Regions from separate parts of the Homo sapiens genome. Here region 1 is linked to region 2. The links come from fine-mapping of genetic effects on gene expression. A gene starts in region 2. The other region holds a variant in brackets. All regions are shown on one strand. Distances are from middle to middle.

The links. PIP is the estimated chance that this variant, and not a neighbour inherited with it, causes the effect.
Region 1: its variant is the best candidate, but not a certain one, in a credible set for the expression of RAB9A in blood mononuclear cells (TOPMed, PIP 0.63).

What each region holds. Positions count from the first base shown.
Region 1 is chrX:13,716,766-13,721,765 of GRCh38, forward strand. TRAPPC2 (trafficking protein particle complex subunit 2) reads right to left here. Exons shown (of 6, transcript NM_001011658.4): 3 at 3,106-3,217. The coding sequence starts at 3,198. It also overlaps a transcript of OFD1 not described here. Among named protein-coding and RNA genes, the nearest start is that of TRAPPC2, 15 kb to the right of the region's middle. The variant T/C (reference allele first, on the strand shown) is at 2,569.
Region 2 is chrX:13,686,699-13,692,228 of GRCh38, forward strand. It overlaps RAB9A (RAB9A, member RAS oncogene family), which reads left to right and starts at 2,430. Exons shown (of 3, transcript NM_004251.5): 1 at 2,430-2,590. RefSeq lists an enhancer at 2,130-2,179 and silencers at 2,330-2,569, 2,580-2,739, 5,364-5,530.

The sequences.
Region 1 (5,000 bases), 30 kb after region 2:
TTTTCTTGTGGGGAAAAAACAGTTTGCTTTTATACTTTGTTATTGTCATGAGACTTATAAAAGATCTGTTTTCATATTATATTCTATTTTTAAATTTGATATCTACATCTCAACAGAAACAGCCAATTAATAAATGAAATGTGTATATAGAGGATTTATACAAAATCATTTATTGAAAATCTTTTTCATATAAATTTTTTTTCATGTTTCAAGAAGGAAGTTACCGAATTCTGTAACCATCTAAACATGTAAAAAAAGGATACTATGTTAAAAAAAAAAAAAAAAAAAAAAAAAAAAAACAAGATCCTGTGGAGAAGAGGTGCCATTCACACTAGGCCTCAAGGTCTGGGAGGAAACTGAGAGGGCGGGGCTTCCTGCACAGTGGCACCAGGTAAGCAGTAGAGACAGTTGAAATGGCGCTTATAACGGCCTGCCAGAGGCCTCTTTCCAGTGCATGGAGCTTACATGACAGCGGGACCTAGGAGTAGTGGGAGGTGATGCTCAGCCCCAGCTGTGAGCAGTCGCCTGTGTCAATAGCAGGACACAGTCCTGTCAGAGCTGGGAGTGTCCTTTTCCTGGGCTGAAATGGCTTAAGTGAACAGAAGGTGGGACTGTCTGACCATAATGTGAAGACGGAATTCAGAACTTGGAATGCAGTCTTACTCCAATGTAGTTCTTTGAAAATACATTTTTTGGCCAGGCGCGGTGGCTTATGCTTGTAATCCTAGCACTTTGGGAGGCTGAGGCAGGTGGATCACCTGAGGTCAGGAGTTCAAGACCAGCCTGTCCAATATGGTGAAATCCCATCTCTACTAATACAAAAATTGGCCGGCTGTGGTGGTGCATGCCTGTAATCCCAGCTACTCGGGAGGCTGAGGCAGGAGAATTGCTTGAACCTGGGAGGCGGAGGCTGCAGTGAGCCGAGATCACGCCATTGCACTCCAGCCTGGGGGACAAGAGCAAAACTCCGTCTCAAAAAAACCCAAGCCATTTTTCAAAGAATACCTGTTATGGGTTGAAGTGTTTCCTCTCTAAAATTCCTTTGTTGAAGTCCTAAGCAACAGTACCTCAGAATGTGGCCTTATATGGAAAGAGGGTTGTTGCAGATGTGGTTAGCTAAGATGAGGTCACACTGGAGTAGGGTGGGCCCCTAATCCAATGGACTGGTGTATTTAGAAAAAGGGAACATTTAGAGATGCACACAGGGAGAAAAATGCCACATGAAGACTGGAGTTATGCTGCCACAAGCCAAGGAACTCCCAGAAGCTGGGAGAGAGGCCTGGACAGACCCTTGTCTTTGTGCCTTCATAGGGAGCATGGCCCCACTGACACCTTGATTTCAGATGGTGGCCCTCAGAACTGAGACAATAAATTTCTGCTGTCCCAAGCCACTCAGTTTTTCGTACTTTGTTACAACAGCCATAGGAAACTGAGACGGCTTCCTTGCCAAGGAGGCTGTTCTCATGCCTGGGCTGGAGGAGGGCGGCCCGTTGCCGTGGAATCCCATGCATAGTTAAAGCATGTTTTACTTCACTCATGTTGCCATGACAAAGCTAAGTGAATCCTTAGAGAAATGGATGTTTTTGTGTCTGGCTCACAGCAGTGTTTTCTTTTACAATGATGATCAATCCTGAAGAATTAGGAGCAAACTGAAAACGCTTTAAGAAAGTGAGTGGTAGCAGGAGAAAGAACTAAAATCAAGTTATGCAACAAAGTATTTTTATGTGTGCTTTGTCCAACACAAGGGCAGTGGAGTGCACAGAAATTACATACAAGTAGCTGCATCCCACAAAGCAGTACTGGTACAGAGATACCTCAAAAACAAGTTTTAATGAGTAGTGTTCTCATAATATGAGAAAATAATGTCACAACTCCACCTCATAGAGAATCCCGTAAACAAATGCCTATCTTATTTTGGTGGCAAGGCCTGAATAGTTGAAAAATACCATATATTATGCATTACAATTAACTTAAAACATCAATTCCTTAAAGGACATTAAAGCCAATTTTTGGAGGTTGGGAGAAACATAGCAAACTTGTCAGCAATTTATTAGAAACAGAAATTGGAAAGAACTGGGCTCTTCTCGTGTCAAAACTCTACAGGTCTGGGCCAGGTGTAGTGGCTCATGTCTGCAATCCCAGCACTTTGGGAGGCCGAGGGCAGGCAGACCACCTGAGGTCAGGAGTTCGAGACCAGCCTGGGCAACATGGCGAAACCCTGTCTCTACTAAAAATACAAAAATTAGCCTGGCACAGTGGTGCGCACCTATAATCCCAGCTACCTGGGAGGCTAATACAGGAGAATTGCTTGAACCCAGGAGGCAGAAGTTGCAGTGAGCTGAGATCGTGTCACTGCACTCCAGTCTGGGCGACAGAGCAAGACTCTGTCTCAAAAAGAATAAATAAATAAGATCCAAATGGTTTTATTTTAAGCATTTGGGATGGTAATCTTTCTTAAAATATATGGTCCATTTCCTTGTCTCAAAAAAAAAAAATACTCTATGGGTCTGAATGGCAATATGTCCTCGAGCTAAGCTTGGTTTTTGGAACCATTCTTGACAAGCAAGT[T/C]GGGTGGTATCACCTCTGGTGCTGCTTTTGAGCTTCCTGTGTATGGCCAAGGTGTCACTGGGGAGGGGAGCATACAGGCTCAACCCAGCCAGGAAGTGCTGCAGAAGGCCCCTGAAGTGAGGTGCTGCAGACCCAGTGGCAGCAGGAAGACAGGGAAGTAAGGGTCTTTTCTAACCCAGTAGGTCCTGATGAAAAACATGATTCATGAAAACAGCCTGGACTTTCATGGTATTTCAAGGCGGCAATCCACTACAGGTGAACTATGTCTTTATGTGCTTAAGCAACAGCAATTCATGGTGGGTGACATAGTGAACTGAGTATGATGGGAATGCCAGAGCGTCATGCTAGTCTGTGCTGAACTAAAGGATGAATAAACATCTCCAAGGACATACCCTGGCTGGCTTCTATCAGTCTGTGGGCTCCTGAGCAAGCCTCATTTAATTGTGGTGGATTTCAGTTACCTTATCTGTCCAGATCTTCCAGTTCTAAAATCATATTATACCATATCATTACAATAGCATAAAAATTCTTACGTACTTTGGATTCTGCCTTCCCAGCTGGCAAAAACTCCATTTCAAAAACTGGATTATCATGGTGGCCAACAATTACAAAGTAGAAGCTCCCAGACATGGTCTTCAATATATGGCTCCTAATTAAGTGAAAAATAGTACATATTTTTAGTAGTCAATCTTCAAATTAAAAAATGACTAATGGGAAGTGTAGAATTCTTTTTTAAATTTAAACCTGACATTGTAGAGGAAGATGCTACTAAGCTTGGCAGTTTCCAGTATACTAGCGAAGATACGTAGCTTCTGGAATAAACAAATTATGTATCTATGATATGAATCTGTGAATCTAATGTATTTTCTTAAGTAAACTGGAAGACCTCTAACATGAAATCACAAAGACAACATTCTCATGATCTGAAAATATGGCTCATTCAGCTCAAGGGGCCCTAAGTGTCTGGTAGAGTAAGCTGGGCTTCATTTGGACTGGACCAGTTAGTAGCAGCACGGACACCTAGAAGGATTAACAGAAGGTGGTGGTAAGTCAAGGACAATACAGAGTAGTGGGAAGACCAAGGAAGTAATTACCTTGCCTTAGAAATTTCCAGGAGGCATCCGTCGGGGGAAGCTAAAACCAACTCTACCTCATGTCACTTACCTAGAAAGGACAGACACTGTATCACTGATTCGCAGACTGCGTGTGCTGTATTTGTCTTCTTTCTACTTGAAGTATGTGTGCTATAAATGTAAGTCTTTGCAAATCTAAGAGCCTATGATATGCCTCTTTATATACCAATTTATAAGAAAGGAAGAGTTTTGTATTCTAGAAAAGATGGAAGAAATAATCCATAAAGGAAGACATTCTGAGGCACTGAAAGATCTTGGAACTAAGTTTAACATGTTGGGCCCGGTGCAGTGGCTCACGCCTGTAATCCCAGCACTTTGGAGGGCTGAGATGGGCAGATTGCTTCAGCCCAGGACTTCGAGACCAGCCTGGGCAACATGGTGAAACTCCATCTCTACATGAAATACAAAAAGTAGCCAGGCATGGTGGTATGTGCCTGTAGTCCCAGCTACTCAGGAGGCTGACGCAGGAGGATCACCTGAGCCCAGGGAGGTCAGGGCTGCAGTGAACCAAGATCGCACCACTGCACTCCAGTCTAAGTGACAAAATGAGACCCTGTCTCAAAAAAAAAAAAAAAACAGATTGGCAGAAGAGATGAAACTACGAGAAACTGGGGGGAAAAATATAAGTGATTCCATGGCTTTTAGCACAGATAATTGAAATCTAGATGAATGATGGATGGGTGGGGGCATGGATGGATTTACCCCAAGGTAACCCCACGGTGTGTATTTTTAACACAAGGACTTTGGAGTCAAAGTTAGGTTCAGGTCTAGCTCTGCTACTTACTGGCAGTGTGACCACAGGCAGTCCTTAACTTCCTAATGTCCGTTTTCTCATCTGTTAAATAGTGCTAACACTGTAGCACCTTATGGTGCACTTATGAGGATCACACAATCTAATGCATGTAAAGTACCCAGTACAGTGTCTGACCCACAGTACATGCTCAATTAATGTTAGTGGAATAACATGGGAGACCGTATGCACACTGGGATGTGGTGACTAGTAACTTCTCAACACGGAGTGGAAATCAAGTAAACCGGGAGTTACAGTCAGTCTCCTAGAACATACATCTGAGGTGTGTTAGAAGCCAAGACTTAGCAAGCCTCATTGGGCCTTCTGCTGATTCACACAGAACACACAATGAAATCAGAAGAAATCTGATATGTACTTGCTAATGAATGACACATTTTATAAAGGAAATCAAGGCACAGCTGGCACTTTTAACTCTAGAATTGGAAGGCCATGACTATGGAAGAAAAGGCAGATCAGAACTCCTGGCATGATGACGTAAGATTTAAAAT
Region 2 (5,530 bases):
ACTGTACCCGAGTCTAGGGCCCACTTACTTGTAGCTTTTTTTTTTTCTTGAGACAGAGTCTTACTCTGTTGCCCAGGCTGGAGTGCAGTGGCACGCAATCTTGACTCACTGCAACCTCCACCTCCCGGGTTCAAGTGATTCTCCTGCCTCAGTCTCCTGAGTTGCTGGGATTACAGGCGCACGCCACCACACCCAGCTAATTTTTTTGTATTTTTAGTAGAGACGGGGTTTCACCATGTTGGCCAGGCTAGTCTCAAACTCCTGACCTCATTATCCACCGGCCTCGGCCTCCCAAAGTGCTGGGATTACAGGCGTGAGCCACCACGCCCAGCCACTTGTAGCTTTTCATCAGAGATGCCAGAAGTGATTTCTTTCAGTCTCCAGCTTGAGATGGGGTATTAACTCCTAGTACTTATAGTAATAAGTAGGTGTTATTTAAGTAAAAGAATCATTTATGCATAGCAACTTTGGCCTCTTTCTCTCCCGTGAGTGATGCATTGGTGTTTACAGAATATAAAGATGAAAATCTTCGTTAGATGAAGGGAGTCAAACTAGGTTAGTTCTTTAATGTTTTCATCAAGGAACAAGTTTATGGAGCAAGAGAGATAGCAACTGTCTATCCAACTTGCATCAGCTTACCAACCACACACATCCAATAACAAAAATCCCCCAAACTTGCCCTTCAGAGAAAAATCTTTTAACCCACTTTACTCTTGCACTGACATAGAAATGTGGTTAAGAAGTGAATGGTGGAAGAGACCAGAATATACTAACTTTCTTAAATGTCAGTTGGCTAGTATCCAACTGATAGTAATTTTAGAGAAAGTAACTTTCTAAGCTTATTCTTTCTTAAGGTACTATAAGCTACACTCAAATATGTTTGAATGCCTTCTTACATTTTGGAACAGCCTGAGAGTCACTTATGGAACCTTCTTAGAACATTTTTATGAAAGCTGTTGGGTTTGTCAAGGTTTATTTTAACTCAAAATACAATAATTTTATGAGATCACTTGTTAATAGCTAGTTGGCATTAGCAGTTGCACAGATAAACTCCTATTTGATCACTCCTTGACTATGGTTAGGATATACGATTTTCAGGTGGCATTTCTTTAATTACCCTGTGGATTGCTTGTTGCAATTTGACCCAATGTACATGACTTTTTTTTCTATTGGAAAATTAACTCTAGTGTTCATATATAATGTTTTACTGTGTACTTTTAATATGTGTTTTAAAACAAGATAGTGTATATTTCTTCTTCCCCCCAATTTAACAGATTTGTATTTTATAAACGTTTATACATATTTCCTTGGGGAAATGACCTGCAGATAAGAAATAGATTTCTGTTTATGAGAAAACAATTATTTAAGCTTATGTGTCGTTTTCAGAAGCATTCTAAAATTGCCTTTTTAATTTGTGAGGAACTTTCTCAAACATGACCTTTCTAGTGCTGAATGAAAAGTCATTACCTGAAAATGACTCCCCAAAAAGCTGGAGATTATTTAACTTGTTGTGAGCCCCAGCATCATAAAAGTGAGATCTTTGTCTTGGAAAATAAACAGACTAAATCTTTTTTAAAAAGCTTTTATTTTAGGTTTAGGGGTACATGTGTAGGTTTGTCATGTAGGTAAACTGCCTGTTGCAAGGGCTTGGTGTACGGATTATTTAGTTACCCAGGTAATAAGCATAGTACTTGATACCTAGTTTTTTTCTGCTCCTTTTCCTCCTCACACCCTCAACCCTCAAGTGGGCCCTGGTGTCTCTTGTTCCTCTCTATGTGACCATGAGTTCTCATCATTTAGCTTCTACTTATGAGTGAGAACACGCAGTATTTGGTTTTCTGATAAACAAACTAAATCACCGTACAAAACGTATTGAGATGTCCCTATGAGTCCCTCCCGCCTGTAGGGTTCTGTATCATAGGATCCATGCACTCAACTTCATACATAAAGCAAGGACTTAAGGAGAGCTTCTCCAATACCACCTTTTGCACCATCGCTTTCTATTCAGAGATGACAGAGGCAGTATTTTAACAAGATTAAAGGAAAGTTTTAATAGCTTCATTTAAAAAGTTCTTGTTTTTCCACAGTATCACAACTGTTTTCATTTTTCATCCACCTGTTTGTTCTTTGTCCGTTTGACTAGTCGTTTTTATCATTGTAATCACGACATCCTGTGACTGTGCTCATGAGGTCTGTTTATTTCCACTTTACGTAAACTTTTCAAAATGACAGTTATTTCGTACTCGCTGTCGCCCGAACGCAGACGGGAGGACACTTCAGGAGCAATCGACCCGAAGGAAAAGCACGATCCAGGCCCCGCCTGCCTCGGCTCCACCTTCCCCGCGCCCGTCCCCCAGGGTCTCGGCCGCGGGACCCCGCCTTCCAGGCCCCGCCCCGCTTTTTCCCTGGCCCCGCCCCGGCCCGTCGCCATGTTGTTCCCTCCGCGCTGGACGGGAGCAGCTGGAGCGGGAGCCTGGCTGCGCTACCGCGGCTGCCTCCTGCTGTGCAGGTCCCCGACCCTCTCTCTGTCCTCATTGCGCCCAGACGGGCCGGCCCAGAGCTCCCGGGTCGTCTTTCGTGTGGCCGCGAGGTGAGCGGGACTCGGGACTCCTTCGGGACCGGGCGGAGTGCGCGGGTGTCGGGGTCTGAGGGGGCGGCTCGGGCCTCGGGCAGCTGGGGCGGGGTGCGGTGCGCGCGGGGCTAGCGCGGGTCACAAGGCCGCCCCGGGAGAGAGGACGGCTGGTTGTCTCCCTGCCTCCTCTCTGACGCAGGAGGAAAGACGGTCCCCACACCCTTGGGGAGAGGGACTCACAGAAACACACACAAACACTGGAGAAAGGGAGATACAAAAGCCCGGACACCCGTGCACATACACACGGAGAAATACACCCGGTCACCTGGGAACACACGTACACGCCAGCCTTTCCCCCAACCACTCCGGGACACACATCCACAGACCCCAAACCAAATCCTACACCCGAATGATTAATGTAGGGAAAACAAAGGCGCTCCCATGACTTGATTTTGGCGACCTCTGAAGTTCCACCTAGCAGAACGTGTTTGCTCGATGTCTTACGACCACTCGGGTGAGGAATTCGGAAAGTAAAGCCAATCTTAGAGGCTGCAGGCGTTTTGGGGGCATTATCTGATTCAGACGCTGGCTAACGTTTCACAATCGCGTTCCCTTTTTTCTTCCAACTTGGTAAGTAAAAAGGCAAAATGAGAAATTTAAGTGCTGAACTTAATAAATAGTTGGTGGACGTATTGCTTTTTTTTTTTTTTGGTAAGGGATGACACATCTCGTGACTACAGTTCTTTTGAGGAATAACTTTTCTGCTAGTTTCCAAATCGGCACGTGACCACAATCTTTTCATAGGATTTTAGCGTCCTGATAAAAATCAATGGGCAGAATTTGATTGCTTCTTTAAAAATGTGTTTGTCCTTCGGTCTCTGGCACCATTGTAATGGAAAATCCCTACATTGCCTGTACTCTCAGAAGCTGTCCAGTGTAGCAAAACTAGAGATAAAGAAACCTGGAACGATTCAGTTAGGAACTTTTAAGAAGCCAGCCTTTAGTTTTTCCTTTAGAAGATTATGAAGTTATCATGATTGCTTCTCTAGAACTTTAGTAGTTATTTGGATTCCTAAATCTAAGACAATGCTGTGGCAGTCTGGTGCTTTTAGTATTTTTGTGTCTGCTGTGGTAAATTCCTCGTTTATACTACAAAGTTTCTCTTCTGGAGACTTTTGGGATCTGGGCATATTTTTTCGTTTATTATTTGGAATGTTAGAGTAGATAGGCAAACACTAAGTAGAACATCATTGGCTTTGACTCCAAGCCGGGTTTTAGAGATAAGGGAAATAATACCTTAGTGCTATCACTTCTTTTCCAACCTCTCTCATCTCTTTTTGTTTCTATCTCAACCATTTCTTCTGTCTGGACTACAGTACTCTGGAGGCCTAAAGAGAAGATCCTTGAGTTCTCGAAATTATTTTTTTTTAGCCTCCCCTCATTTCTGACCATTTATTGAGCACTCACTCTGCGGCGAATATTCCGTACGTGTAAATCCTGTACGTACATCATTTTATTTAATTTCCATAGCATTTCTTCAGTAAGAGCTCCATGTTACAGTTGAGGAATTTGGGGGGGCATAGGAAGGTTCAGTCTGTTTTCCAAGATGACCCAGGTTGTGATGGGGTGGAGCGGGGATTCAAAGCAGGTCTGGGTAATTTTAGAGTAGTAGTTTTCAACTGGAAGAGAGGACAATTTTGTCCTCGTAGGAGACATTTGGCAATGCCTGGAGGCATCTTTGGTTCACACCTGGGGGCAAGGGAGGTGCTGCTGACATCTAGTGGGTAGAGGCCAGGGATGCTGCTAAACATTCTTTTTTATTTTTATTTTTGTTATTTAATTTTTAAATTTTGCTGCTAAACATTCTATAACCTACAGGACAGCCCCCCACAACAGAGTTGTCTAGCCCAAAATGTCACTAGTGCCACGGTTGAGAAACCCTCCTTTTCAGCAGTCCAAGTAACCCCAGAGCTTACATTTCAACTGCTTTTGTAGTTTTTCAAATGCAATGTCGTTTTCCTATTTGGGATACCTCATCATTTTAACAGTGAGCAGGGGAAAATTCTCTCTACTGAGAAGCATATTCACTTGAAAGATTAAAGAGTGAGTGGCTGGGCACGGTGGCTCACGCCTGTAATCCCAGCACTTTGGGAGGCCGAGGTGGGCGGATCACGAGGTCAGGAGTTTGAAACCAGCCTGGCCAACATGGTGAAACTCCGTTTCTACTAAAAATACAAAAATTAGCCAGGCGTGGTGGCGGATGCCCGTAATCCCAGCTACTCAGGAGGCTGAGGCAGGAGAATCGCTTGAACCTGGGAGGCAGAGGTTGCAGTGAGCCGAGATCACGCCATTGCGCTCCAGCCTGGGCAACAGAATGAGACTCCATCTCAAAAAAAAAAAAAAAAAAAAAAAAAAAAGACCAAATAATTTCTGGTAGCAGAATCTGTTTTTTGTTGTAAGGCAAAAATGACAAAAAGAACTTTAGAGCTATTCAGAGCCATTAAAGTGGACTTAGAAAGTTTAGTTTCTGCATTATTTCAGTTGTCTGAGCAGCCTGTGGGGCACTGATACAAAGGTGCTGATGAGAAGGGCGGTGGGGAGTCCCAACCTTCCTGAAGCTTACAGTCCAATCACAGTCATAAGATTAGGTTCTGACATCATCCTAGAACAGAATTTATTGCCTGGGCTACTCAAGGACAGGGGCCAGGTGTTCATTAAAAAAAAGCAAAACAGGAAAAAAAAGCAAAACAGGCTGAGTGTGGTGGCTCATGCCTGTAATCTCAGCGCTTTGGGAGACCCACACAGGAGGATCACTTGAGCCCAGAAGTTTGAGACCAGCCTGGGCAACATAGTGAGACCCCCGTCTCTACAAAAAATAAATTAAAAAAAAAATTAGCCTAGCTCAGTGTGGTGGTGCATGTCCCAGCTACTCTGGAGGCTGAGGCAGAAGGACGACTT